4 linked regions of the Homo sapiens genome follow. The protein of the gene in region 3 interacts with the protein of the main gene of each other region in a pairwise test. Each region holds a gene or a part of one and is shown on either strand. Other genes may lie near its edges.

The links.
Region 1: the proteins of ECM1 (region 3) and ITGB4 interact in binary tests that used the Homo sapiens proteins (3 or more experiments, as listed by UniProt).
Region 2: the proteins of ECM1 (region 3) and HOXC8 interact in binary tests that used the Homo sapiens proteins (3 or more experiments, as listed by UniProt).
Region 4: the proteins of ECM1 (region 3) and KLHL38 interact in binary tests that used the Homo sapiens proteins (3 or more experiments, as listed by UniProt).

Annotation. Positions count from the first base shown.
Region 1 is NC_000017.11:75,716,717-75,724,472, forward strand, and holds the start of ITGB4 (integrin beta-4 isoform 1 precursor), read left to right. Parts: upstream 1-4,742; 5' UTR 4,743-4,896; intron 4,897-5,562; exon of another isoform or gene 5,563-5,711; coding exon of another isoform or gene 5,712-5,806; intron 5,807-7,756. UniProt on the Homo sapiens protein: Integrin alpha-6/beta-4 is a receptor for laminin. Plays a critical structural role in the hemidesmosome of epithelial cells. Is required for the regulation of keratinocyte polarity and motility.
Region 2 is NC_000012.12:54,004,627-54,011,990, reverse strand, and holds the start of HOXC8 (homeobox protein Hox-C8), read right to left. Parts: upstream 3,007-7,364; 5' UTR 2,707-3,006; coding exon 2,271-2,706; intron 903-2,270; coding exon 610-902; 3' UTR 1-609. UniProt on the Homo sapiens protein: Sequence-specific transcription factor which is part of a developmental regulatory system that provides cells with specific positional identities on the anterior-posterior axis.
Region 3 is NC_000001.11:150,503,870-150,511,117, forward strand, and holds the start of ECM1 (extracellular matrix protein 1 isoform 1 precursor), read left to right. Parts: upstream 1-4,239; 5' UTR 4,240-4,340; coding exon 4,341-4,410; intron 4,411-5,661; coding exon 5,662-5,712; intron 5,713-5,791; coding exon 5,792-5,893; intron 5,894-5,965; coding exon of another isoform or gene 5,966-6,052; coding exon 6,053-6,133; intron 6,134-6,232; coding exon 6,233-6,313; intron 6,314-7,006; coding exon 7,007-7,248. Other genes in the region: TARS2 (threonine--tRNA ligase, mitochondrial), read left to right, coding at 466-566, 763-864, 1,037-1,109, 1,722-1,836, 3,047-3,195. UniProt on the Homo sapiens protein: Involved in endochondral bone formation as negative regulator of bone mineralization. Stimulates the proliferation of endothelial cells and promotes angiogenesis. Inhibits MMP9 proteolytic activity.
Region 4 is NC_000008.11:123,650,794-123,657,834, forward strand, and holds the start of KLHL38 (kelch-like protein 38), read right to left. Parts: upstream 3,009-7,041; 5' UTR 2,793-3,008; intron 2,619-2,792; exon of another isoform or gene 2,135-2,618; 5' UTR 2,134-2,134; coding exon 784-2,133; intron 1-783.

The sequences.
Region 1 (7,756 bases), on a different chromosome or scaffold from region 3:
AAAAAAAAAAATTTGCCAGGGGTGGTGGCGGGTGCCTGTAGTCCCAGCTACTCCGGAGGCTGAGGCAGGAGAATGGGGTGAACCTGGGAGGCGGAGCTTGCAGTGAGCTGAGATCGTGCCACTGCACTACAGCTTGGGCGACAGAGCGAGACTCTGTCTCAAAAAAAAAAAAAAAGTAATGTAGGGCAGGGGATGGGATGGTGAGGGTTCTATTTTAGAATGACAAAGAGACAAAACAATCAAATGCAATAGGTGGCATGGATTGGACTCAAATTCAAAAGGAAACCTTTATAATAGACATTTTGGAGTCAACTAAGAAAATTTGAATATGGACTGAATCACACATCATTTAATGGAGACATTATTTCCTTAGGTGTGAAAAGGGGCCGGGCTCAGTGGCTCACACCTGTAATCCCAGCATTTTGGGAGGCCAAGGCGGGCAGATCACCTGAGGTCAGGAGTTCAAGACCAGCCTGGCCAACACGGCGAAACCCCGTCTCTACAAAAAATACAAAAATTTAGCTGGGCGTGGTGGCATGCACCTGTAGTCCCAGCTACTCGGGAGGCTGAGGTAGAATTGCTTGAACCCAGAAGACAGAGGCTGCAGTGAGCCGAGATTGCACCATTGTACTCCAGCCTGGGCAACAAGAGCAAAATTCTGTCTCAAAAAAATAAAGGGGGGTATTGAGGTTACGTGGGGGACTGTTCTTGAGAGATACATGCTGGAGTGTTTAGGATGAAATGGCAGGATAAGTGCAACTTCAAATTTAAAAATATACAAATGTTTAACAAATATATAAATAAATACAGCAAAATATTATTCTTGAGTCTAGTTGGTAAAAATACGGGTGATTTTTGTATTCTTTCAACTTTTTGGGGCATGGTGGCTCACGCCTGCAATCCTTGCACTTTGGGAGGCTGAAACGGGAGGATTGCTTGAGCCCAGGAGTTCAAGACCAACCTGAGCAACATGGTGAAACTCTGTCTCTACAAAATAAAAATTAAAAACTTATCCAGGATTTGTGGCACACACCTGTAGTCTCAGCTACTCAGGAAGCTGAGGTGGGAGGATCACTGGAGCCCAGGAGGTTGAGGCTGCAGGGAGCCTCGATCGTGGCACTGCCCTCCAGCCTAGGCAGCAGAGTAAGACCCTGTCTCAAAAAAGAGGGGGCCTATTGAGCAACCCCTTGGCTCTGAGGAGAAAACAAACCCCAGGATTCTGCACCGGAGAGGCCTCTGCCCCCAGTCTGAACATGTGGTTGATGCGGGCTCTCCAGACAGGTCACTGGACTCTTTCCACCACACATCCCCTGTCTATTTATTCTTTAACTTGTTCTTTTATAAAACAGGTGCCAATCTACCAATAAGTAATGTACATTCTCAAGTATAAGAATAGGGGCTCAGGGCTGGGCGCAATGACTCACGCCTGTAATCCCAACACTTTGGGAGGACAAGGCAGACGGATCACCTGAAGTCAGGAGTTCAAGACCAGCCTGGTCAACATGGTGAAACCCCATGTCTACTAAAAATACAAAAATTAGCTGGGCATGGTGGTGCGTGCCTGTAATCCCAGCTACTCAGGAGGCTGAGGCAGGAGAATCGCTTGAACCCAGGAGGCAGAGTTGCAGTGAGCCGAGATTGCACCACTGCACTCCAGCCTGGACGACAGAGTGAGACTCCATCTCAAAAGAAAAAAAAAAAAAAAGAATAGGGTCTCAGCTAGCACCTACCTCGAGAATACTCAGCCTACTTTGGAGACCCCTGGTTTGAACTGGGAGTGAAGGAAGCAGGCCGTAGTTCTCGTTCATCTTGGTATCCCCAGCATTTGGCATAGGAGCTCATTAACTGCTCATAAAATGAATAAATAATTGAACTAATGAATGAACAAGTCTGACCTACTGGAGGCCACATGAGGAGTGCAGGGGAGTGGAGGAGCAACAATCCAAGGTCCTTGGGCTCGGTCCTGTTCCAGGGGCCTCACCTCTCTTGCAGAGCCTAGGAAGCCCCCTATGAGCCAACCTCACTCTGGCCCTAAGGCTGCAGAGATAGTGGGGTTTATTTTAGTTTTATAAAATTCACATGCAGGCTGGGAGCAGTGGCTCACGCCTGTAATCCCAGCACTTTGGGAGGCTGAGGTGGGTGGATCACTTGACATCAAGAATTTGAAACCAGCGTGGCCAACATGGTGAAACCCCAACTCTGCTAATAATACAAAATTAGCTAGGCGTGGTGGTGTGCACCTGTGATCCCAGCTACTCGGGAGGCTGAGGCAGGAGAATCGCTTGAACCCAGGAGGCAGGGGTTGCAGTGAGCCAGGATCGCACCACTGCACTCTAGCCTGGGCAATAGAGTAAGACTCCATCTCAATGACAACAACAAAAAAAATCACATGCAATATTTAAACTTCTGGGGCCAGTAACCTATTTGGGAATCCAGTGTAAGCTAAGGCTCCCCTCCCAGCAAACCCACATTCTGAAATCAGATACTCCTCAAAGTTTGCACAAGATCTGAGATGGTTCAGGGACTCCCCACTGCCAAGTCCACATGCGGGCTCCAGGTAATGAACCCCAGGACTCCGAGAAGCCAAGGAAGCTCATGGCTTATCTTACTTAGTGAGACCTCCCTGGGTTGACATCTCGCCTCTCAGCTGCTACAGGGCTCCAGGCCCCCTAGTCATTTTCAGAAGGGTTTGCAATGAAGAGAGGAAGGGGCTGCTGAGCCCAGTGGCCTGGGGCATCGCCAGCTCTGGACCTGGGTCTTCTCTAGGAAGAAGCCTCAGCCCCCACCCACAGTGGGGTGTATATGACCCCCTAGTTCTCTAATGGGTGCTGCTGGCAGACCCAGGCCCCTCAGGCAAGCTGTTTTTGGCCGTTCTCTGAGCTCCTGCTCCATGTTTCTGTTTTTTGGGGTGGATAGGTACCTGCTGGAGTGACTCAGGTCCACAGGGCACTTGTGCTGGCCTGACACACACAGATCTGAGTGCTTCAACCAAACTGGGACTCCTTCCACATTGTTCCCAAATCCAGGAGCAAGCCTCTCTGAACACTTTCTCTGTGCAGAACAGCTCTCAGATGACCAGGAAAGGTGGCGACTCACACATTTGCAACCAGCACCCCTGCAATCACTCTGAGAGGTAGCAGTGGAGGAATCTGTTTACAGATGACAGCATGGAGGCTCAGGGAGGCTGTGTGACCATCCCATTCACTCAACCACCCTTTTATTGAGCACCTGCTATGCACCAGGCATGGTGCTAGGTGCTAGAGAGTAGCTGCCCTTGGAGTCACAGTCCAACAGTGTGGCGAGATTCCTAAACATCATTTCAAACCAATGTGGCAAATGCCATGTAAAAGCCATGGCCCAAGGGTTATGGGGACACATAAACCAACTTGGGGTGTGGAGAGGTCAAGGAAGGCTCTCTAGCACGTGGTTGGTGCAACGTCTTCAAGGACAAGAAGGATAAACTGGGCTCAATGTCATGGGAAGGGACCAGCCTGTTGAAAAAGCACGGTGGCTTGAAACCGCATGGTTTGGACAGTGCTGTGCCAGCAGTCTGGTGTTGTTTGGCATTGCTGGCCAGTAAGCCTAGAGAAAAATGGAGCCCTGGCTGGGCATGGTGGTTCACGCCTATAATCCCAGCACTTTGGAAGGCCAAGACGGGTGGATCACCTGAGGTCAGGAGTTCGAGACCAGCCTGGCCAACATGATGTACTAAAAATACAAAAATTAGCCGGGCGTGGTGGCGGGCACCTGTAATCCCAGCTACTCGGGAAACAGGCAGGAGAAGCGCTTGAACCCGGGAGGCAGAGGTTGCAGTGAGCCAAGATTGCACCACTGCACTCCAGCCTCGGCGACAGAGTGAGACTCCATCTAAAAAAAAAAAGAGAGAGAAAACAAAAAGAAAAAGAAAAATGAAGCCCTTCTCTGACCTGAACACCCGTGGTAAGCAGTGGCAATGGAGAGACTGCTCTCAGAGGACTGACGGGAGGGAGGGGCCAGCTCTGTAACCAGCTTGTTAAGAACAACTGTAACAAGGCATCGAGTGCCAATCCATGCCAGGTCGGCACTGACCTCTCCAGGGTATCACTGTTCACACTGTAAGGAGATTTAAGTAGCTTGTTGAAGGGTGCACCGAGGACCCGACCCTTCCTCGGCTCTCCCTCTGGATACAACGTGAGGTTAGGGGTTGGAGGCTGAGAGGACCCCGTGAACTGCAGAGCAGAGCTGGGACGGGGAGTCAGGCCTCCCGACCGGGCCGGGGGCACTCCCTGGGCCCATGCCTCGCGCTGGCACGGAGAGCGGGGAGGGGGGTACGCGGCTGACGACCGTCGGGGCAGCAGCAGCAGCACAGCCCGGCGTTGGCTAGCGGCCCAGAGTCGGGGCAGGGAGGGTTCCCGTGCGGACGGGGGCTAAGAGGCCGCCTCCAGCCCGGGGCAGTCCGCGCACCCGAGCCTGGAGCCCGGAGCCTGGAGGGGTGGGGAGGCCCCGCGCCCAGGGCCGGACCGGAGGGAGAGGGAGAGCGGTGGCTCCTCCCCCGGCCCCCGCCGCTAGCCGATCGGGGCGCTGGGCGGGCGCCGCGGGAGCCGCAGCCCTTTCCGGGGGGCGGACCCGGCTCCGGCGGCGGCACCCAGCTCCTGCCCCGACAGGTGCGCGCCGCGCGAAGGAATGCAGCCGGTCTGACTCACCAGCGCCTCCTTCCTACCTGCGCGCCCGCCCCATAAAGCGCTGCCCGCCTCGTCCCCACCCCCCCAACCCCCGCGCCCGCCCTCGGACAGTCCCTGCTCGCCCGCGCGCTGCAGCCCCATCTCCTAGCGGCAGCCCAGGCGCGGAGGGAGCGAGTCCGCCCCGAGGTAGGTCCAGGACGGGCGCACAGCAGCAGCCGAGGCTGGCCGGGAGAGGGTGAGTGCCCGCCCCAGCTGGGCAGCCGCGCAGGGGAGCTGGTCGGGCAGGGCCGGTGGCTTTTGTCTCCCCTTCCCCTCCCTGAAGGCTGACAGGCCCCGGTCCCTCTGTCCACGCTGCGCAGGACAGGTGCCCAGCCTCCCCGGGGTGCGCCGGGGGCAGCTGGCAGCCAAGGGGCAGGGCAGCTAGAGAAGGGTGGTGCCCATCAGACCTCCAGGCCAGAGGAGCGCCTTGGGTGCGCCTGCGGGAGAAGTGGGCAGAGGCCAGTGGCTGGTAGCCCTCTGGGGCTGGGCCCCTCCAGGGTTTGCAAAGAAGGTGGAGTAGACACCAGCCTGAGTGCTGGGCCCAGCCCATCATGGCGCATCTAATGATAAACCAACATTCCTGACTTTTATGTGAAATTTCGTTCTTTCTAACATTGGCTCCTACTTTTAAAAGCCACCCTGAGAGGCAGACGCCATCCCGGCTCCAGGCAGGGCTTGCTCTATGCGGTGCCACAGTCCATCTGGGGCTGGGGAGTCCCTGATTTTCCTTTTCTCTTGGCCAAGCACAGGCCTGCCTTCCTCCCAAAGTCAGCCCCAGGCGCCTTCCTTCAGGAAGCTCTACAGGCCTCACCCACCAGCCCCAGGGCTGTGCCCAACACTGCCACCTCCTGCAGCATCCGCCCTCTTTCCCATGGCTCAGCCTCTGGGGTGGCCCTCTGGCTGGGACTGGGGCTCTGGGGCTCCTGGTGACTCCCAGGAGCAGGGACAGGGCTTCTCCTCTGCCCCCATGGCCTTGCCACACCCTGAGGACAAGGACCAGGCACAGGTGGCATGGTTGTTGCTGTCCGAAACAGAGCTGGCAGTGAAGGCTTGGAGTCTCCATCCTGGGGGCTGAGGGAAGGACAGCAGGAGGGACAGGAGGGGAGGTATGTCTGTCTACTCGACCCTGATTTCTCAGGGAGACAGAACAGCCAAGGGCCTGGGGTCCCCAGACTTCTGGCCAGCTGCCTCTCTGGGGCGAGGAAGGGCCTGGGTCCCTGAGGGGAGGAGATGTGACAGCGGGAGAGGATAGTGGACAGGAGCAGGTGTGCCCAGAGGGGTCCCCAGGGGTTGGGATGGGGGCCAGGGGAGCTCTGAGCCTGTGGGTGGGTGGGCATGGCCTGTGTGTGTGTGTGTGTGTGTGTGTGTGTGTGTGTCCCTGTGGGGGGGAAACTGCCTGTGCTGCAGTGTGATGGCATTCAGGGTGGCAGTCACACACTCCAGGGACCTGCTGGTACATAAAGTCGGGGCAGCCTGGTGGGGTCCGGGCCGCCTGGAGAGTAGGTGTCCTGAGCGCTGGGCCCAGCCCATCGTGATACATCTAATGATAAACACAAATTCCTAACTTTTATGGGAAATCTCGTTGTTTCTAACATTGGCTCCTACTTTTAAAACTTTCTAAACAAATGAAGCCAAACACTCTTGGGTGCCTCGCCAACCCTCTAACTGCCATTTTGTAGCTTCTGCGTGGAGGCTGCCATGGAGGTTAAAGGCAGGGCCTGCAGAGCAGGGCCCTGTCCTGGCCCTCCCAGTGCTGTCCGCGGGATGGGGAAGTTCCACAGCCTTCTGTGCCTGGTCTCTCATCTGGGAAACGGGCAGAATGAAATCATCTCCCGCCGGGCTCCTGTGCTGAGCAATCTCCTCCGTGAAGCCCTGGGCTCATATGGCAGTCACAGTGTGGGAATCAGCACTGCCTGAGGGGCTGTGGCCAGGGACAGTGGGAGGAAGAGCTGGGCTCAGCTCTCCAGGCCTGTACCTGCCTGTGTAATGATGCCTGGGAGGCCTGAGCCTGCAGCCTGTATTGTGTAGCATGTGGGTGTGGCGGCTACACCCCGAGGCTGCAAGGAAGTCATTTCCCTCTAGGAACCCTGCTGTCCCCACCCTTTCCCTGCTGGCTCAGGGCTGCCTCCCAGTCCCTGTGCCACAACAGGTCTGACCTGCATGTGTTGGCGCTGCTGTGGCCTCCTCCAGGCTGCACGCCTTAGAAGCAGGCTACGCCTTCCTGCCCTTGGCCTGAGAAGGGCTTCTCCAGCACCTCGGGGACCCCAGCCCCCAGACCCTGGGGTGGCCACTGCCCCAGAAGCCGGGCTGAGACAGGATTCAATGGGGAGGGCCCGTGGGCAGGGCAGAGGCTTGGGCCCCTGGGAGACCTGGCCCTAGAGAAAGAGGCGCGGTGCTCACCTTTGCCCCGGCCTTGCAGGCCTGGATGGCTCTGCCGCCAGCCTCTTTTCTTGTCCAGGCTTCAGGCTGAGCATCTCTTAGAGGGCCTCAGGGATGTCCAGTCCTGCCCTGAAGGCCGCTGAGGACTTAGGATGGTTTAATACTGAACCCACAGCCGCTGGGGACGCCTTGAGGGGAGCCACAGTGTGTGTGCATGTCTCACTCTGGGCTAACTTGTGAAAGGGTGAACAGCTCAGGGGCCCAGAAAACTTAACTCTGGGGCAGGCAGAGGTACAGGGGAGGGCAGATGATTCAGACCCCACCCTGATGGGCCGGGCAGTCACTGCAGAACCCAACCCGGTGCAGTAAGCCACTGCGGGCAGCTGTGGCCCAGCCCCAGGCCCCAGATATTGGGAGGGGCCCCTCTCCTCCCGGCTGTGCCACCCTCACCAAAGGGTAAGTGGGCCAGGACAGAAGGAGCAGGAGGCAGAGCTGCGGCCCCCTCTCAGGGAGGCACCCTCATTGGATGACCCTGTCATGGCCAAGCCTGACCCAGGCTCACTGGGAGCTAAAAGGCAAAGAAGAATAAACCCACATCTGCCCTCAGGGAGCCCAGTGCTGAGAGGCCTGGCACTGGGACAAACTCGCAAACCAGAGTCCTTGAGGGCTGGAGGGGG
Region 2 (7,364 bases), on a different chromosome or scaffold from region 3:
AGTCAAGGGGGTTTTTCTAAGCAGGGAGCCCTGGGGAGGGGGAGGGGGAGGGGGAGGGGATATTCCTTGCTTTTTTCCTTATTTCTTTACATTTGTCTTCCTTTCCTTTCTTCATTTTTTTCTGTCCTTTCCTTTTTAGAAAAAGTACATCTAGTACACTAGCCTTAGCATAAAAACAAAACCACAAGTCCTTTTCTGCATTTCGAGGGGGCTCCCCTCTAAAATAAATACCAGAGAAGCAGGGAGGTGGGAGTGTGGTGAGAGACAGACCGAGGAGCACGGAGGCCAGGTCTCAGACCTTAAAATCCAGGAAGGACTCAGAAGGGTGGGGGCAGGGACAAGTGTGTGTGGGGCAAGGAGTGAGACAGAGAGTCCGAACTTTTCACTGTTTCTCCGTCTCCCCCCTCCAGCCCCCAAACAAATAAAGAGTGGGGGAAGTCCAAAGGTAATAAAACCAGAGCTGCAAGTATCTGACAGGTAGTTAGAGTTGTGAGTGTCATTCTATTCTCTATAAAAGCAAATGACAGTCGTAAACTTCTCAATTTATCTGCTACCATAAAACGAAACTTCAAGGGAGTTGCTAAGGGGGGGGGGGTCTTTCTTTTTTGCTTAGTCCTTGTTTTCTTCCTTTTCCTCCTCTTCTTTCTCCTCTTCCTCATTTCCTTCTTCCTCCACCTTCTCCTCATCTCGGGCTCCCGGCAGTTTATCCTTGTTGTTCTCCTTTTTCCACTTCATCCTTCGGTTCTGGAACCAGATCTTCACTTGTCTCTCGGTCAGTCCCAGGGCATGAGAGACTTCAATCCGACGTTTTCGTGTCAAATAAGGATTAAAGAGAAACTCCTTTTCTAGTTCCAAGGTCTGATACCGGCTGTAAGTTTGCCGTCCACTGCGCCTCCCCGGAGCTGGACAGAAGAAAACCCCAGTCTGGTTACGTTTGGATGGGGGCTTGGTTTTCCTTTGCCACTCTTCCTACTCTAAACTCCCCTCTCTGATCTCCTCAGTTCGCCTCCCCTCTATGGAAAAGGCTAGAGCAGAAGGCAGACAAGGGCAGAAAAGTTGGGGGATTGTTTTTGTTTGGCTTCACCTTGGGAGGTGGGGTGGGGGTGGGGGCTAGGGTCTGTTTGGAAACTGGGGCCTTTCAGGGGCTGGGGAGCCCTGTAGAATCCCCCCCACCAGGCCTGTAATCCTAGGAACTGGCCTTTGCAGCTTTGTTTACAAGTGCAGCAGGGCATTTAGTGAGCGAGGCTGGGGACAGACTGTTTCCAAAAGAAAGGAAAAAAAGCTGGGGGTAAAGAAGAGGGGCTCTGCCCACTGCCCTCTCCTTGTCTCTCTCTGCCTAATGCTTTTCCAATAAGAAAAATAATTGATCTGCTGGAATGTGTCACCGCTCCGCCTGATTGCTAACTGGAGACCAGCAAATAAATCATGGGCCATCCCCGCCGGAACTTGTCGCTTTATCGCTTCCCCCTGTACTTCGAAATTGGGCCATGAGGGGCCACCCTTGGAGGGGCTCATGACCTAAGCTACTCTGCAGGTCTCAGGGAGACCCCACAAGTCCTTGATTGGGGGGGCGGCTAGGGTCTTCTGGACCTCAGGAACCCCTAATCTCTATGGCCTCTCTCCTTTTGAGCACTCTTTTTTCCCCCTCCTCTCAGGCTCCCCCGTCTTCTCCCAACTGGGGGAAGTATAAAAAAGTTGGGGTAGTGGCCCTCAGGCTGGTTCTCTGAGAGGAGGTTATGGGTGCCCTAGAGAGCCAGAGAGCCTGTCCTTAGAGTCTCACCACACTCTGGCTAGGGCAGAGCAACAGGGGTCTGTCTCCCTTTGCCCCAAGACAGCCTGGCCAGTGTCCTGGACTCCAGGCTCCCTGCCTCTGGAGAAACTGGTTTGTTCCAAAGGCTGACAGTCTCAGGGTACTCAGGGTACCATTCCCAGCCACCTCCCCAACTTTGACTTTAGAGATGGGGAGTGGGAGAGTCAGAGAGAGACAGACAGACAGAGATGGAGAAAACGATTTTTAACCCTTTGCGGCCACACACCAGCTTTCTCTCACCTTCACCCCAATCCCCTAAATGTTCTAGGCACCCCCTCCCTGCCCCGCCCCAGCGGAGCCTTCCCAACTTCGAGAAAACCACCCAGGCACAGGCACGGGGGTGGGGCGGGAGAGACCCCAAAGCCAGGAGAAAAAGCGAGGGCAGACAAAAAGGAGGCGAGGGAGGGGGGGAAACCCTGGAGCGCGGGAGACCAAGGGGGAAAGAGAAAAGGCTTCTCACCGTGGGGTCTCATCCATGGAAACATGAGGCTGGGAGACGAGTTTTGATTTAAGTGGCCTTGTCCTTCGCTACTGTTAGTGTTGGCGGAGGATTTACAGTCGGGATATTGCACCACGCTCGCCTCTTGCTGAGCCCCATAAAGGGACTGTCTGGGGAGCGCCTCGTAGCCATAGAATTTGGAGGCGTCTCCGTGGCAGCTAAGCGAGCACGGGTTCTGCTGGTAGCCTGAGTTGGAGATGCCGGAGGTGCCGTGGTGGAAGAAGTCTTGAACGTGGTGCGAAGCGTGCTGGAAGCCGGGCGCCGAGCCGCCGGGCCCGTACACCAGCGCATGGCTCCTGCCCACGCTCTGAGGGAACCGGCAGTCGTAATAGGCCGGTTCCAGGGACTCGCCGGCTTTGTATTTGGAGAACAGGGGGTTGACGAAGTAGGAGCTCATGCTGGGTACATGAAAACCCGCGGCCCCCTCCCCTCTGGCTCACGAGTACCCCGCCCAGTACCCCCGAAACTCCCCTCCCCCCGGGACCGAACCCCAGGCCAGCTGGCTCCCCGGGACTGGGCTGGGCTGGTGGGCTGGGGGCTGGGCAGGTTGGGGGGCGCCTCGGTGCTGAGCTCGGCCGGATCAGCAGAGCTCCCGGGGCTGGGGCGCGGGCGGCGGCGGCGGCGGGCGGCGAGCGGGCGGCGGCGGCGGCGGCGGCGCTCCTCACTGTCGGTAGGTAGAGCTCGCGCTCTCTCACTTAGCTCTTTCCTCTAACAGCCCAGGCGAATTCCTCAGACTCCCGGCGGTGGCGGCGCTTACACGCGATTCGCGTTCATCAATCCACGACATGAAGACAGGCGAGAGAGAGAGAGAGAGAGAGAGAGAGAGAGAGAGAGAGAGAGAGAGAGAGAGAGAGATGGCGGGGGTTGAGGGGTACAGGGCTGGGGGGACCTGGAGGAAGGGGAGGGGAGGAGAGGGGGAGGGATGGGGGTGTGTGGTGTGTGTAGGGGGGTGGTGAGCCAGCCCCAGCTAATGGCTGGGGCCAGTTTTCCAGGGTACGAATTTAGATGTGAAGGTGCCTCTCGCCCCCAGCCTCGCTTCTCTTTTCCTTCTTCTCAGAGAGAGAGAGATACCTGAGCCAGCAGGTCAACCCAGGTTACCTCAACAGGTATAAGACCTCCAAGGGGATGAATACCTGCAAGCCAGAGCAGGGCCCCTAACCCAAAAGATGGGCTTCCTAGGGGGTCCCTAAGTCTGGAGACTTTGAGGAGGAACAAGCACACCATACTCCCAAATACTTCAGGCATCAGACCCTCCATCCCCTGGCCCCTCCCCAGGGTCCGAAGCTGTTCTGTCTTCTTCCTTAGATCCAGGAGACTCTCTTGCTACCTGCTATGGGTAGAGGAGAGGGTCAGAGGAGGTGGGGCTGGGGAAAACTCCATATACCCAGTCAGGGCCACACTGCCCCTTCAGACACGAGCCCCTGCATGGAGCAGGAAACCCAGGCAATGGCCACAAGCTTGGCTAGGGGCTCTGAGAGCAAAGCTGCTTATGGAGACTAAAAGGAAAGGGCAGCTGTGTGTCCCTGGTTTCTAGCTGGGCTGATTCAGGACATTTCTTCTTAGGAGACTATTTGCATCTGAGTTGGAGGGGACTGGAGCAGGCCTCTTACTTGTCCCCACATACCCCCATGCCATAGGAAATGCCAGCTCAGCCTGGTGGGGCCCCTGGCTTCACTGCAGCTCCCTCTTCCCCAGGCAGGCTGCCCAGGCCAGGATGTGGATGGGAACTATCAACAGACACTCTTTAAATATTTATCCACACTTTCTCTGGAGGGTTCCCCCATCCCCAAGACTGAATACGTTCAAGTTAATTCTAATGGATTAAAGAACCTTAGTCCATCAGCACCCTTCTCTGGCCATAAGTGTGTACAGTGATTTGGGCTTAACACAGACAGAGAGAAAAAGGGAGAAGGTGAGAATACATGCATGCTGTGTGCATATGAATGAAAAAGATGAGTAAGAATTATTTTTCCAGTCCTCTCCCTCACCAGGGTGTGAGGCTGTTACACCCAGGAAATCCTAGAGCACACTCAGGACACACACACACTGTACGTGCTACTTTTCACCCTGAGACACATCAAGTCCATGCTCAGTGTAAACTAGCACACACATGCCTGGAAGCATCCCTGCCACCTCACAGACACTGTACGCACATGTGCACACCCAGGCACACATGCATACATGCCTGACAAACACAGATGCATCTTTAGGTCTTTGCATTATGAAAGCAAAATGCTACCTGTTTTTCTTCCACATCCTGGGGGTTTCAGGGTTGGATGAGGAAGGAGGTGGTTAGGCAACCAGACCTTTTCCTTCCCCATCCGGAGCCCAGCTCTGGAGATGGAAGAAGGAATGGCGGTTCAGGGCAGGATGGTTTAGAGAGAATGAACACCTCCTCCCACCCAACCCAGTCCCCCTATTATCTAAGTAATTGCTGGGGAAATGGCCACTCTCTGTCAAATTCCCAAAGGAGATTCACTGGTGCAGGCAGCAAGAGCTCCCTCCAGGATCCCCTGCATTTGGGGAATCCCACCCCCATCTCAGGAGCTGCCCAAACTCTTAGACACCCAGAACTCTGGCATTGGAGCAGCACGAGGGAAGGGTCAGAAGAGGGCTGTGCCAGGGCTGCAGGCCTCCCTAGGGTCCAGAACAGTAGGGGTCAGGACAGGGCGTCTCTACCCGTACCACAGCTCGCTTCAGCCTTGGCTCCAGCCCTGCCTTTTCTGAGCCTGCTCTTCGGGTGCTGCGATGAACAGAGTGGACTCTGGGCTCCCAGCATCTGGGTCACTGGAGACTGTCATAAATACTTTCTCTTCCCAGCCTGGAAAAAGGAGGCCCAGAGGGCTGGATCCGCTCTGGGGCCTGCGCCTTATCATTTAGGGGGTGGGGTGGGGGGATATTTCGACATTTTATGGTCCAGCGAAAACCCTGCCAGAGAGCTATTCTTCCGGGGCTTTGTGTCTTGGAATGCGACTGTCCCGAGTGTGCCGCCACCGCCGCCTGCCCGGAGAGCCCACCAGTCCCGCAACCCCTGGCCGGACTTGGTTTCCCCTTTTGGGGATCCCTCACCGTTCTTTCATTTGTTTGTTTGCTTTCTTTTACACGTTATCTGGTTTATTTCGCTCCCCGAGCCTGGAAATAAAGGAACCGAAAGCAGCCATCCTCGCCGAGGCCGTCTCTGTCCCTCTCCCCGAGGCCTGCACCGCCCTCATAGGTACCACGGATTTATGTTCGTTTGTCCGGGTCATTCTGCCTTTTTGTGTTAATTACGCGCTGCCTGCTTTGCACTTATCTCCTCCACAAAGCGATTATTTTTAATGCCTGCCCTCCTGAGCCTTCCGAGCCCGCTGCCAGATCGAGGGCCCATCTCCCGCTGCCACTCGCGAATTATTTACACCTCGCAGGTGAGAGGATTGATTTGCTCAGAGCCAGTGGGGCCGGGCCGGCCGAGGCGCGGGGCCTTCTTGCAGCGGCTGCGGGCCGGGCCTCAAATGTCAGTGCGGCCAGGGCGGCCCGGGGCACCGCCGCCTCTAACATTGAGCAACAGCGCCACCTCGCGTCCATTTGGTCCAATGCAGTCCGGCTGGGAAAAAGCTAACAAGAGGTCCCAGGCTTGCCCCAAAGGTGGGAAGTGGGAGGAAGGAACCTCCAGATGGGTGCTCAAGAGAGAGATTCCCTGGGAGTTGCCCCAGGACTGCTGTTCTTTTGTTTTCTAAGTTCTTGAAATAAAACCTTGTGAAAGGTTCCACACTGTTTTCTCTTTTTGTTACCCTCCCTTCTCCAATTAAGAGACTCTAAGCAAAGCAACTGCCGCGATCTCCCCCCATTCAGGCGCATTTCTGGGCTTGGAACATCTCCGCGAACGCGGATGCACGCTCCGAGGCTCCCACGACGGCTTGCCCGCGGCGCGCACCCTAAAGTCCTCCCTCCTCTTACCCTGATGCTGGCCCCGCACCGACTATTCCGCCGCCGCCTGCAGGACTTTGGGGTGGGACTCGGACTTCTCCAGGCTGTTTGACCCCTGGTTTGTAGCCCATCCCTCTCGCGCGCGCGCTCTCCACCTCTCCCTCTCAGCCAGTGAGGTCCTGTTCTCCGTGGGCCATAGACAAAACATTCCTATAATCCGATTTCAAAGGAAAGTGTCCACCTTATTTAAACCATAAAACAATTAAGCCCAGACGTCTAGCCAGCTCCGCGCTGCTGTTTTGTTCGGCCCCATTGAGAACCCAGAACAGGGAGACAAACAGCGCCATAAAAGTGGCATTTCGGGGCTGCGGAAATGTACCTATCCGCTGCCTTCTCAAGTGGAACAATCTTTAGGGTTTTGTGATTCTGACAAAGGAGCAGAGGAGAGGTGGGAGGGGAAGATTAGGGGAAGAGGGCGTTTGCTAGCCCCTCTCTACCCCCAGCTTTCATTTCTTTCCCCAGATGCGTGTTGTGTTGTTAATTCGTAAATGATAGCGAATAAAAAATGATTCCAATCCTGACCTGCAGGCTGGGCTGGGATTGAACAGTGGGCCGGGCCGGGTGGGCCTGTTCTGCATCCCATGCTTTCCTCAGGGTCCTCCAAGCCCGCGGCCCTCCTTCCTGCCCGCAGTAAGGCCGCTCAGGCCGGCTGCAGGAAGCAGGCCGCGCTGATGGACGCTGAGGGGAGGCGACAGGGCCTGGGAGCAGGGGCGGGGTGGAAGCCCGGAAACGCCGCTCTCGGTCTGGGAGAGAAGCCCGCATCCCAGCGCTCCCGACCAGGGGAGAGAGGGGTGTCTTGGCCTCCACTGGGTGGGGAACAGGAGTCAGAGTTCCAGAACAGCAAAATGGCCAAAGAGAGGTGTGAGGAAGGAGAAAAACTATAGGCAAAACACCTTTCAAATGGACCAAGAAAACAATGCTTCTGGAATTGGGGAGGCGGTCTCCTAAGCTCGAAAGAGGAGCTGGTGCTTCAGCGACTGCGAAGTCCCTTGTTGCGACTTGATTGCCCCCCAGTATTATCGAAACAAAATTTTCACCCCTTCCTACCCTCCTCCAGCCACCGACATTGGAGTTTTAATAGAAGGAGAG
Region 3 (7,248 bases):
TCCTGTCAGGGTGACAGAGTGAGACTCTGTCTCAAAAAAAAAAAAAAAAAAGGAATAATTCTCAGAGCTGGCTGACCAAGAGACAGTAATCAGAGTAGGGTGTCTGATGGACAGTTTCAGAGGTACAGCCATTGGGGGAGATGACAGGATAAAGGGTGTAGCCATAGATGGGTGGTGGTGAAGATCTCTGAGATGAGGAGCTCAAGGAATTGAGAGGCCAGGGTGTGGACATCAGGTAATATTATAACACCATTATTAGATGGAGAGAGCTGCTGAGAACTACTGCCAGAGTGAGTTGAGTAGAGTGAACTGGAGGGGTAGCGTATGATAGAGCTAGGTGACATGATGAAGGTAGTAGCCCGGGATGAGGGTAGGTTAAAGGGTGGGATGGCACAGGTAATGGAGGATAGTGGTTCTGGATAGTGCTTCTGGCTTATCTCGTGCCTTCCCATCTGTTTCCTGTAGATTGACGTGCACCTCCACGATGCCCTGGGCCGGCCACATCAGTGTGGGACAATTCAGCTTGACTTCCAACTGCCCCTGAGATTTGACCTCCAGTATAAGGGGTATAAAACCTTGCCCTATCCTCTTTTCCCTTGACAGTGCATGGAATAAGTCCTTCTGCCTTTGGCCCTAAAAACTAAACCCTCCACACCCTCTCCTGCCAGAGCTGAATATTTCTTAAAAACTGGAAGGTGATCTTGGGTACACAATTCGTGATACTTCCACCATTCCATCCACCCCCCCCTTTTTCCTTTCAAGGCAGGCGGGTGCCCTGGAGCGTCCAGTCCTCATTCACCGAGCAGTGCTCGGTTCTGTGGAAAGACTGTTGGGAGTGCTGGCAGAAAGCTGCGGGGGGAAATGGTGAGACCTCTGACCTGGATTTCTGTTCTGGCCCCAAACCGGATAGTTATGCTCCAGATCCTGTCCCCCTTCATATGCCAGCCTCTTTCCTTCTCAAGTCTGCTCCATACAAGCACACTTCTGGCCAGAGCCAGAGTGACTAATTTGCCATCACCTGTTCTTTCCCTACCAGGCCACTGTGGCTGTCCCCGTTCCAGGTGGTGGTCATCCCTGTGGGGAGTGAGCAAGAGGAATACGCCAAAGAGGTAAGGAGTTGAGGTAAGGGAGGGGGCAGAAGCAGGTCCAGTAGAGAGTCTGGTGCCCTGCAGTGGGCAGGAAGAGGCTGCAGGGGTGGTAGAGGAAGGAGCACAGCCCTCACAGCCACAAGACTGGGCTCGAGTGGCTGCTGTCCTAGATGCTGGAAATCCTGTATCTAAAAAATGTGACTAATGCCTACCTTGTAGAGATGTATGAAAATTAAACAAATTAACAAATGTTGAAAGCCACCAAAAGAGCACTTGGCACAAAACTGGGATTGAGTACACAGTTTTATTTTTCCTTTCTAGAGAGAATTGAGGATATGGATGGTACCAGAGTCAAACAGCTGGTTGGGTAGAGCAGTGGCTAGAAGGCAAAGTCCACGGAATAACTGGGGGGTCATCTCCAGTAGGAGGCAGAAAGATTGTGGGGTTGGGGATGAATGGGGAGGAGGCCTCAATGTGGAGATGAAATGAGGAGAGGTTGCTGGTAAGAAGTGGAGAGCCCCGAGGCAGGGAAAGGAGGAACAGATGGGGGCATTGAGGGAAAAGAGCATCAGACTGTTCTAGCTCCTTAACTTTCCAGTAAATTAACTTCCTGTCACCAAACCTCTGTTGCAGGCACAGCAGAGCCTGCGGGCTGCAGGACTGGTCAGTGACCTGGATGCAGACTCTGGACTGACCCTCAGCCGGAGAATCCGCCGGGCCCAGCTTGCCCACTACAATTTTCAGTTTGGTAAGCTGAACCTCAGAGCCAATGTTCTCCCACCTGCCGTCTGCATTCTTGCTGTTAAGTTTACCAAGTCTGGTAATGCATATTTGGGTTAATTGGGGCTCATTACCTGAGCAGGTAGGAGCCAGGATTCAGGACACCTGACTCATTTGGGCCCTGTGTTCCTTCACATTGCCCTGCCCTCCCCATAACCACTTCTGACACTCAAAATAGTTTTCCTCTTTTTAACTCCACTCTAGCTGTTGGTGTCTGTTAGGTTAATTAACCAAGGGAGCATCAGAGAGAAAGGGACGGGAGGGTTAATACAGCGTTAATTACCCTTGTTTATTTTAGACCTAGATGGAATCAGCCCTAAGGGATGAGGAGAAAGGCCTTAGGGAGAAAATTCTGGCACTGCCATGCTCCCTTTTTCATTTTCCAGGGTTCAGGGCTCTATCTCAAAGGTGAGGAGCAGAAACTCCTCAGCCAGATTACCTGATTCTTGAGTTTTGCACACCCCACTCTCCCTACAAGCACCCAGAGCAAGCTGTGCTGCAATCCCAGGGACTTGTACATGGCCCCTTTCCCTCCCTTACCGCCCAGTCAGCCCCTGCATACATCCTCCTCAGCAGAGGCCCCTCACTCTGTGAATCCAGCCCTAACAGACACCAAGAGCCAGAGTGGGACTGATGAGAGGAAACTGTTCTAAGGGTCAGAGTGGTTGGGGGGAGGCGGGGCAGTGTGAAGGCCACACCACTCCTGCCACCTTCCACTTGCTCTAATACCCCCTTCAGACACGCGCGCGCACACACACACACACACACACACACACACAGTTTCTCTCTGTGGGGTTCTCATTGTTTGTCTTTCTCTGCTTGACTCTAATGTCTCTGACACACACACACACACACACACACACACACACAGTTTCTCTCTGTGGGGTTCTCAGTGTTTGTCTTTCTCTGCTTGACTCTTATGTCTCTGACCCTGGGGCTCTTGACCAGAAGCGATAAGGCCTGCGGGGACTGAAGCACTTCCTTGTCTCCTCAGGATGAGCAGGACTGGTCATTTAGTATTAGCAGACACAGCTGAATACTTCCTTTCTGTGAACCATATCTGGGCTCTGCTCCCACCCTTCCTAAAGATTTAGGTCTCTCAAGTTTCTGCAGAGCAAAAGAAACTGTTCCATGTGGGTGAATTTGCCCTGAGGTTCCCAAACTTCCTCTACCTGCAGTGGTTGGCCAGAAAGAGCAAAGTAAGAGAACAGTGAACATTCGGACTCGAGATAATCGTCGCCTTGGGGAGTGGGACTTGCCTGAGGCTGTGCAGCGACTGGTGGAGCTACAGAACACGAGGGTCCCAAATGCCGAAGAAATTTTCTGAGCCTTTGTACATAGATGAGGCAAAAACCTGCGAGTGCCATCAGCCTCCCTCACATGGGAGACCCCAACCCAGCTGACAATGTGGAGCCCCCAGAACTTCAGAACTGTGTGGAGGCACATGTCTGCTCTCCTGAAAAGAGACTTGGTTTGGGGACCCCACAAAAGGAGGGAAGCTGTAGCTGTTTGGATGTGAGGAGAATGAAACTACAAAAAAAAATAAATTGGGCCAGGCGCAGTGGCTCATGCCTGTAATCCCAGCACTCTGGGAGGCTGAGGCGGACGGATCATGAGGTCAGGAGATCAAGACCACCCTGGCTAACACGGTGAAACCCTGTCTCTACTAAAAATACAAAAAATTAGCCGGGCATGGTGGCACACGCCTGTAATCCCAGCTACTCAGGAGGCTGAGGCAGGAGAATCGCTTGAACCCGGGAGGTAGAGGTTGCAGTGAGCTGAGATTGCGCCACTGCACCCCCCTAGGCGACAGAGCGAGACTCTGTCTCTAAATAAATAAATAAATAAATAAATACAAACTGGAAGCTGCTGGTCATATGTCTTCATCTCTGACTCTGGAGAGGTGGGATAAAAGGATGTTCCACTTTGTCTCCCTCTTTTTTGTCCCAGAGAGTTAGGGAAATTGAAAAGGGACAGTCCAGACCTCACACTGGTAGGGGAGATCCCTTGGATAGGTTTCCTGCTCCCCGCTGTAAACTCCTTTGTGCCCTGTTTCCCCAACCCCAGTTCATGAGTTGGCAGATCCCCTCTCCACAGAAGGCAGCCTGTAGATGGAGAAACTGAGGCACAAACTAGGGGCTCAAACACCTCTTGCTCCTGGATTCTCTGAATCAGTTTCTCTTGAAGGTCATAAGAATGTTCTCCTCTAATCAGTCCCATTCTTCTCAATCCTCTGAGGAGGCTTCAGGGTGACTTTGGGAGGAGTGGCTTCCAGAGGAGGAGCAGCTGGGACTGAGTCATGGCAGGAAGCTGAGGAGGGCGGGAGATCACACCAGACAATTATAAAAGAAGAGCTGGTCCTGAAGCTCACAACCGTAACAGCCACCAGACAAGCTTCAGTGGCCGGCCCTTCACATCCAGACTTGCCTGAGAGGACCCACCTCTGAGTGTCCAGTGGTCAGTTGCCCCAGGATGGGGACCACAGCCAGAGCAGCCTTGGTCTTGACCTATTTGGCTGTTGCTTCTGCTGCCTCTGAGGGAGGTGAGTTGGGGGATCAGCACTTAGGAGGGGGTCTGGGCTTGCATGGCAGGGGTCTGGGTCCAGGCATCCCAGACGGCTCATCACTAGCAGAGTGATTCTCCGTTTGGCTTTCCTTTTCTGAGCAGGCCCAAAGTGGGCCTAGGCCAGTGGAGCCTTTAACCAAGGAGGCAGAGAGCAGGGGCACAGAAGGAGAGGGGTTCCTAGAAACTGCTGCCAAGAAACACAGAATCCCAGTCAAATAGACAACTGAGTGGGGGGTGGGTTCACAGAGTGAGGGTCTCCTGCTGATGAGGATGTAGGGAGGTGGCTGGTGGGAGAGGCAAGGGAGGGAAAAGGGGCCCCCAGGCTGCTCAAAACCGGATTGCTGGCCCAGCAAGCCTCGACTGACTCCCTGTCTGATTAGAGGAGTTGAGGGGTGTCCATCCACAGACCCACCCTCCATCCAGCACAAACACATTCTTTATCTGCTTTGATGCCTGAACAAAACAGGAACCCCTCAATGCTATGGGTGGAAACTAAGAAAAAAAGGAAAAGAAAAGGAAAAAAACCACCCAGGGCACTCCTGCAGGAAGCTGCTGAGGATGTCAGCAAATCTGTCCACTTCTCTGTGAAGCCCCATGCCATCATTCTTCCCAGCTCCTGGTCTTTTGTGTCTGCAGATCACCTACAAGTGACCCTTCCCTGTGCCTGTCCCAGTCCCCCAGGCCCTAAATTGAGACCTAAACTAAGGCGGAGCTGAGACTGGCTGAAGGGGAAGCACTCAACCTTCAGGAAGCCTCCTTAACCAAAGGCCTAAAGATGTTTCAAGGGCCTGGAGTAGGAGGGTGGGTGGAGGAGGTGGATTGGGTAGGCTCCAACCAGCTCAAGGTCCAGACTTTTTCCTCTGAAAGCTAGAGACGCATCCCAGCAGAGACTGGGGAGGACAACCCACAGCCCTGAGGGAAAGACTGGCAGAGGAAATGAGGGCCTCCCTCCCCAATCCCGTATGCCATACTCCCTTTAGGCCCAACCTCTGAGCCAGTAGAGGTGGAGCTATCAGACCGCCACAGGCTTTCTCAGAACCCAGCTGGTCATGTCTAGGTGTGTTGGGGCTGGGAGAGGATTAGGGGACACGGGGCAGGTGAATACAGAGGGGCATCTCGTGTCTTGCTTGTCTGTCCTACACTCTTGATCTCCACAGCCTCCCCATCCCTTGCTGAAGTCCAGGGAAGGCCCTCCCAGTGGCCCCTGACTTGCCCTTCTTCCCTCCAGGCTTCACGGCTACAGGACAGAGGCAGCTGAGGCCAGAGCACTTTCAAGAAGGTAAGAGTTTGGGGGAGCAGCATGGGATTGGGACTCCAGGAGGCACTGTGGGCTCTGATGTCTCCCCTCTTGCTTCTAGTTGGCTACGCAGCTCCCCCCTCCCCACCCCTATCCCGAAGCCTCCCCATGGATCACCCTGACTCCTCTCAGCATGGCCCTCCCTTTGAGGGACAGAGTCAAGGTAAGGTCACCATCCCATGCCCTCCTCAGTGACCCTCCAGGTTTCTAATCTGGCCTATATCCCACTTTTCAGGTGGAAAGGAGGGAAGAGGCCCTCGCCCCCACTCCCAGCCCTGGCTAGGAGAAAGGGTGGGCTGCTCACACATTCCCCCTTCTATAGTGCAGCCCCCTCCCTCTCAGGAGGCCACCCCTCTCCAACAGGAAAAGCTGCTACCTGCCCAACTCCCTGCTGAAAAGGAAGGTGAGCGCTTGCCCACCCTCCCTCACCTCTATCCCACTATGGATCCTGTTGACACCAGGCTGATCCCTGCTCCTTGGTGCCCTCACCCCTATCTTGCAGTGGGTCCCCCTCTCCCTCAGGAAGCTGTCCCCCTCCAAAAAGAGCTGCCCTCTCTCCAGCACCCCAATGAACAGAAGGAAGGTAAGCAGCTCCCTCTCTTCTTTACCCACCTTTACCTCATGGCCTTCCCCCAGAGCATGGGCTTCGGGGCAGACAAGACGGTGGGCTCTGCCACTCACCAGTTGTATAACCTTGGGTAAGTTACATACTTCTCCAAGCCTTTGTTTCTTCATCTGTAAAATTGAGGATATACCTGTTTTAGAAAGTTATGTGATTAGATGTGCAAAAATAGCATCTATTTTCACTTGCTTCTCTGCTGAGTTCTTCTTTGTGCATGTAAACTAGCCAGGCTTTCTCTGCTAGAGATGGCCATCCCAACATGGCTTTTGCTTACTCCTTCTACCCAGTAGACCCACCTCTTCCATATCAGGAGGAGATAATCATCCATTCCATGCCGAGAGAGGGTGAGTGACAGCTTTGGTCTGTCCATCCTCCTGCCTTAGTGCTCAGGACCCTGGGGAGAGGAGCAGGAAGCCCGAGCCTTGAGAAGCAGGAGGAGGTGGGGGCAGGCTGTGAGCTGACACCTTTCACACCTCGCTTCTCTTTTCCTTTCAGTTATTTTAAAAGGAAGAGCCACAAATTGTTCTTTCTCATTTCCACTATATCCTCCCAACCCTTTCTCCTCCACCCCAGATTCTTTCAATCCTCCCAGCTCATCCAGCCTTTGTGGGTTCCTTCACATGTCCCCGCTTCCCACTGTTTTCCCCATTCCAGGAACGCCAGCTCCATTTGGGGACCAGAGCCATCCAGAACCTGAGTCCTGGAATGCAGCCCAGCACTGCCAACAGGACCGGTCCCAAGGGGGCTGGGGCCACCGGCTGGATGGCTTCCCCCCTGGGCGGCCTTCTCCAGACAATCTGAACCAAATCTGCCTTCCTAACCGTCAGCATGTGGTATATGGTCCCTGGAACCTACCACAGTCCAGCTACTCCCACCTCACTCGCCAGGGTGAGACC
Region 4 (7,041 bases), on a different chromosome or scaffold from region 3:
ACCATACATTTTAGGATCTCACACAAAGATATTTTGATTCAGTGATGTGAGGTCAGGTTCCAGGGGATTTGGTCACAGAGGTGTGGACCAAGGCTTGGGAATCTTCTTTTAAGGCCTTACTGACTTGAGTTAGAAGCACCTGCCAAATTCCTATGGGACTTCACTATCTGACTTTCAATATGCTGTATAATAACTTGAATTTTTAGATATATATTTTTCTCATCAAATGAAGATAAACTCTGTGCATAGGGATGGTATTTGATATCCTTTGTTATGTATTATTTTTGCACAAAAAAATTCATAAATTGAAAAATATCTTGCTGAAAATCCTTCTTCCCTCCCTCCCTTCCTCTCTTCCTTCCTTGCAAATAACAAGTGTTGGTATGTGTGTACATGGGTGCACATGTGTGTGCATGTATGCATGTACGTATTTGTGTTCGTGCATATGTATAAATGTGTGCATGCATGTGTAGATATATGTAAATGTGTGTATGCATGCATGAATTGTATATGTGTATGCATGTGCACACGTATGCATGTTGGCATCTGCATATATGTGTGCATATGTGTATGCATGTATGCATGAATATACATTTCTGCATATATGTGTGCACGCATGTATGCATATGTGTGTTTGTGTATATGTGTGCATATATATATTTATGTGCATATATGTGTTTTTTGGTGTGTATGTATACATGTGCATGTGTGTGCAAGCAGGTGTGGGTGTGTCCAAGCACACATACTCATGCAGTTACGTGATGGGAAGAACCGGCCATTTACCTGGATAAGGCGCACAGGGTTCTGCATGATGTCCTCTCCTCCAAAGAGATAGAGTCTTTGGTCTTTCACAGCGACTGCGGGGTGGAGCACCCCCACGGGCATGCTGGCCATACTCTCCCAGACATTGCAGATGCTGTCATACCTTTCCATGGAGCCCATGAGCTCCTGCCCTTCTCCAATCCCCCCGATGGAGAAGATGAAGTTCTTATGGGCAGTGCTTCTGTGGGAGTAGCGGGCCACCAGCATGGGCTCCCCCAGCCTCCACTGATTGAGTTTCAGGGAGAAGATGTAGACATTGTGACTGACCAGACTCCTCCCTGAGCTGACAGCCATGCCCCCCAGCACATAGATGCTGCGGTGCAAGGTGATGGCAGAGGCCTTGTACAGCCGTGTCGGGAGTTTGGCAAGGCTCTGCCATTGGCCGGTCTGTTTGCTGTACAGTAGGACGTCCCTGGTGGTCTGCTGGCTGTCCTTCCTTCCGCCCAAGAGGATGAGGAAATCTTGGTAAGAGTTTCTTGGAGGGACATGCAACAGGAGTTTGCAGTCTGGGACGGTGGTGCCACACAAAGAGAACATCTGTCTCTTGGCGGTCTCCAAGATGATCTGGCATGCAGGCGAGGACTGCAGGAGGGCATCGTTGGCGATGAAGTGGTGAAAGAAGGCTGGGTGGATGTACTGCAGCCTGACCTGCTTGAACAGTTCCTGCATGTATCGCTTCCGGGCCTGGAGGTCATGCTTGATCCAAACCATGAGGGCCTCAAACACCTTTTCCTCCTCCCCACAGAGCCCATCATCTCCGAGATAGTCCCTCAACTCCAAGGCACAGAGCTCCTTCAGGTCGGCCGATGCGGCCACCTCTGGGAAGGACGTCAGTGCCACCTCCCTGGCTTTCTTCTTGAGGGTCTCGCAGCTTAAGATTTCTGAGAGTCTGATCATACCCAGGCAGTTGCTGGGGGCCAACTGGCTCTGCAAGTACGAGGAGCAGGCCTCAAACAGCTTGGGGAACTGTAGCATGGAGGCGGCCTCCATCACGGGGAGGACATTGTCAGTGGCAATATGTGCCTCCCCCGTATACACGTAGGAGACGATCTGGTCCAGGGTTGGGGGGTCAATGCCTTTCAGCTGCACTTTGGCTTCACTCTTCTCCCGGAAGCTGCTGCAGAACATAGCCCTGAAGTAGGGGCTGCTGGAGGCCAGCACGTTGCGGTGGCAGGGGATCTCCCGGGCACCGGCACAGATGCTCACATCAGTCAGGATCCTGCTTTGCCTTAAGCTGTTGAGCTGCCTCAACAAGTCAGAAGAGAAGTCGTGGTCTTTGAAGAGCAGCCCATCTAGTGACTCCTCGTCCATCCTACAAAGAGGGAAGGAAGCCCCCAGAGTCAGCAAGAGTCAAACCTTTCTCAGCTGCATGTGCTGGAGGGTTCAGCTGTGGGGACTCCAAGACCAGTGCTCCTATTCCATTCCCCATGATGTTTGCGGATGTCACCATGGATATTGTGTAGGGAAGATTGGAAAGGAAGGCCACATACATCTCAGACCTGAGCCCTTTTGGGTTATGGTTATTTTCAAAAGTAATAGGCAAATAGTATCTTCAGCTAATCTGAGAGAAACAACCAAACAAACAAACTAAAGTTGTTGGAAGTTACTCTGTTATCAGAAGCTGAAATGTTAGTCTGAAGCAAGATAACAGTCCATGGATTTGACCAGCAGAAGTTCATGAGCCTTTTTCCAGATCGATGGCATATCTGTTATTGAGTAACAGATGTCTAAACCTCTCTTTCTGGGTGTCAATCATTCCCCAAGGATGATATTCTGGAGGTGTGGCCCTCTGGTCACTGGACAGAAATGAGGGAAGAAAATGGACCTTTGATGCATATATTTAAATATGACTTCATTGAGTCTTGTTTTAAAGATAGAATAAATAAAAGGAAAGACCAAACAATCCCCTGGTTTATTGGATGACACCTGGTTTTCTACTTGCAGAAGAAATAAGTATGAGGGACACTTACCTTGTTTTGCTGCGGTGACATCCACTGGTGCCTGGTCTGACTTATCCCCCCGGAGAGTTTCTACCTCTAGCTCCAAGGGAAACCATAAACCCCAGGCCTTTCTTTCAGTTGGCAAATGATTTGTCCTGGGAGATTTCTGGATTTGTTTATGCTGAAGGCACTTTCATAGTTTTCTAGAGCTTTGTGCAAGGACTGCTGGGCAGGGAGACAGTGTATACATTCCAGGGCTAAGAATAGTTGCATATGTACTTTCCACTGTTATGACATGTGACTTTCCAGTTGCCTTTTGCAGCAACCCGAGGGCCTGCAGGGCCGGCGCATGCCCACATGCCTCGTTTCCTTGGCAAGTGTTTACATCGGCAAAAATAGATCGGGAGGAGCGGCTTCTCTTAGAGAAGACTTTGCTGTCTGCTTGGAACCATCCCGAGTCCCCTGTCCTAAAAGTGCTTGGGAATTCTAGCCGTCTGTAAACAGGTTGCTGTGACCTGTGGAGAGTCACTGAAGATGGTTCTGGGCCACAGTGGAGGTGGCAGGTGGTCACAAGGGAAGCCGGAACATGAGCCTGTGGGTGCTATTCAATGGATCTCTATTTCCCACCATCTGCCTGGCGGGATCGCTGGGGAGAGCTGTGATTTCCTCCTCCAGGATCCTAGGTGATGAAATCCATGACAAAAGTTGTTGTTTTTTGTTGTTGTTGTTGTTGAGCATCCCAGGGTTTCCAGACTCCTGAAGGCCCAAACCTTTGTCAGGTCTCCTTACTCAGGAACCTCTGATTGACAGTGGTAAGGCCGAGCTCCTCCTGTCGCGTCTGCCTCTCCCAGACACGTGCTGATTGCTCTTCAGCTGGCTTTTTATAGTTCAGACTTCCTTTTCTGTCTTACTTTTCCATTTTGTCTTGTCTGGCAGCTTGAGCTAGAGGCAGGAGGCAAGGCATATTGCTTTAGGGAGAGAGAGAAAGAAGATGAAGGAGGATGAGGAGGAAGAAGAAGCAGGGACAGAGGGAGGGAGAGAGACGAGAGGAGGAAGAAGAGGAGGAGGAATAGGAGGAGGAGGAAAAGAAGCAGGAGGTAGAGAATCGGGGGAGGAATGATGATAGTGATGTGGTAGGAGGCAGCTTTCAATAACAATCAGAATCACGAGAGAGAGTGAGGGGGACCTCAGGTCTGTTCTGCCCCTGCCTTCAGGGAGGTCCATGATTGTCTTAGCCACAAAAGGCAGGGAAGCCTGACTTTGTCTCCTACTCAACGTCTTGCTCAACTAGTGCAATGGTCTTCCATGCATTTTTTTTTCTTTGCTCCTAGTACTTCTCTCTCCAATACATCCACCCTGTCTTCTCTGGAGCAGCCCCTGGGAAGGCAACTCAGAATTTGCCAGTCCCCAGCATCAGGCCCTTCAGTGGCTCCCCATGTCTGCAGGACTCCTTAGCCAGAATCGGACTGGTGTCCTGTCTGCTTCTGGAACCATGTCTACTGCCACTCATGTGTGGTAATCTAGCTCCATGAGACACTTACAGATCCTTGTATGCATCTGGTCACTGTTGGGGAAGCTGGGCTGGCCTGGCCTTTGGGACACCACAGGGCAGGGTGGAAGGAAGAGGGTTTCTCATTCACAGTTGCCGATCGTAGAGTGGATTATGCCCAAAAGAGTCCAGAAGGTCAAGGCCAGGGAAATGGATCCAAAACATGTTACTGGGGCCATGGGCCTGGAGGCCAGAATTAGGAGCAGGAGGCCTAAGCTAAGGGGGTCAGAGACCCATGGAGGCACAAGCAGGGAGCAGGTGAGAGGAGCTGTTCCTCCATATGTCCGAGTTGGTGAGCTGTGCTGGTGACATAATAAGTGAGTAGCCACATTCCTGAAAGAGCCCAGGGATCCTCTGATTCGTACTCTATCCCTTTCTATGAGCTCTTCCCCTCTGCTCACTCTATCATTTTCACTGTTTCTGTTCGTCTTCCAAAACTTGGTTTATGTATCACTTCTCTGCAAGTCTTTTTACCCCTCTCTAAGACACTTAACTTCACACTCCTCTGTGCAGTTTCCATTCTTCTACATGCCTCTAATGGCATGCCTCATACCTCACTGAGATTATGTTTACTTCCCTGTGTCTCTCTTATTAGAGTGGAAGTCTCTGGGCAGCAGGAATCTTGACTTCATTGTAGCTCTACTCCTAGCACCCAGCACAGGGCCTGGCTTATAGGGGGTGAATTTCATACACTTCCTGCATTGAGCTGGAACAGAATGGGGAATGGGGAAAGAGAGGGAGCTTTGCTGGGTGGACTTCACACCACTGTCTGCTGTGCCGGTTTTGCAGAGCTGCCATGTATGGCTTACTGCGTAGACTGCCCTGCAAATATGCTCTGGAGCAGCCCTGATTATCCACATAATCAAATCCAATAATGTGATGAAGTGAAAAGTAAAACACTTGTTTTATACTGCAGTGCAAGACTTAAGTTCAGGCTGGGAACTGAACTGAGGTCCTCCCAACGCCAAAGCTAGCATTCTTGTCCTTGACCTCGGAGTGAACATGAGGAAGAAATAACTTCCTTAATGCTCTGAAACACCTGCATGATTTCTCTTCCAGGCAGCAAGCAAGCCAAGGATTTATTCTGAGGGTAATAGGTAGGGGATCCTAGGAGTGAATTAACACAGCACCGTTCCCTGGGAAGGATGTTGGATTTTCCCCTACATCCCCTTACTAATTAAACTTTCTGGAATCCAGCTCTGTCAATTGTTCAGATAGACCTTGGTGTGCAGCATCAATGTCTGACCAACTTTACTAAATCTTTTGGTTTCTAATGTTTAGAAAAAATAGGCCCTGTTTTGTTGGCCTGGCCTACCAGGAGGATCCTGGTTCTAGGTCAGATGTCAAATGTCAAGACACAGAGTCTTAGTGTTCAACATGGCAAACACACACATATAAGCCCAAGCTTGACCCCAAAAAGCATCTCTACCACCCACATGTAGCCCAACCAGCCCATTCATGAGTTGACTTCTCTCAGGGAGGTTTATACTTTTTGTCTTAACTTTCATCTAGAAGATGTCTTAGTCTAGGGCCTGAACATATGGCAACCTAAAAGAAATGACATCAATGAGGACATTCAGCTCATTGTTTCTCCTTTTTTTGTTTCTTCTGAGACAGGGTCTCACTCTGTGGCCCAGGCTGGAGTGCAGTGGCATGATTATGGCTCACTGTAGCCTCCAACTCCGAGGCTCGAGTGATCCTCCCACCTCAGCCTCCTGAGAAGCTGAGACTAAAGGCATGAGCCACCACATCCATCTATTTTTTGTGTTTTTTGTAGAGACAGGGTTTTGCTATGTTGCCCAGGCTGGTCTTGAACTGCTGGGCCCAAGAGATTCACCCACCTTGGCCTCCCAAAGTGCTGGGATTACAGGCATGAATCACGGCCCTCCTTTTGATGAAAGTCAGTATCATAACAAGTCAAGGCCTGAACTTTGGGGGCAGAAGGGCTGGGGATAATCTTGGCATTTCCCCTCAGTATTCATGTGGTCTTGGGTAAGTTATTTATACTCCTCCAGCCTCAGTTTCTCCATCTGTTAAGTGGGGATAACCATCCTTGTCACAGTGAAATAATGTATGTGCAGTATGCAGTAAAGTGCCTGGCACAGTGTATATTCATAGTAAAGTATGGTCAGTATGATATTATTACTCTAAAATTAATCTCATTAGATTCCAATGGGTCTTGGTGCCTGGTTTTCAGTGTCTCAATTGGTCCCCTGTGCATTCTAGCATTTTCCTTTTCCTTGAGCAATTGCTGTGTTCCTCATGATCTACTTAGCCTCCAGGAGTCCTGGCATTCAGTCTGGGCTCTGCTATCGACTAGCTGTGCATCTTTGGATGAGTCAATTAACCTCTCTGCACTTATTTCCTCACCTGGCCCTTCTAGATCACCTTCCTGTGGTTTGTACCCTGAGGTGTTCTCTGCAATCTGTGGCCTAGAACAGGGACTGGGAGAAACTGAGACTGAGGGATGAGGGCTCTTCAGAGCTTCCTCACGGCTCTCGCCTGAAGCCAAGTGCAGAGAAGAAACCTAAGTCGAGCTCCCAGCAGGTGCCCTTGATGAGTTTGCCCTTGTAAGTCAATCCAGAAAGCCTTCATTTTCCCTCCTGGAGTTTTGGATTGCCATGGTGGGCACTTTGACTCAGGAGGCCTTGGTTTCTTTCCTATCTGGGTGTGCGGGGTCTGGGTCCCCAAGGAAAGGGCAGGCTGGCTCCTGTCAGCAGCAGGTTTGAC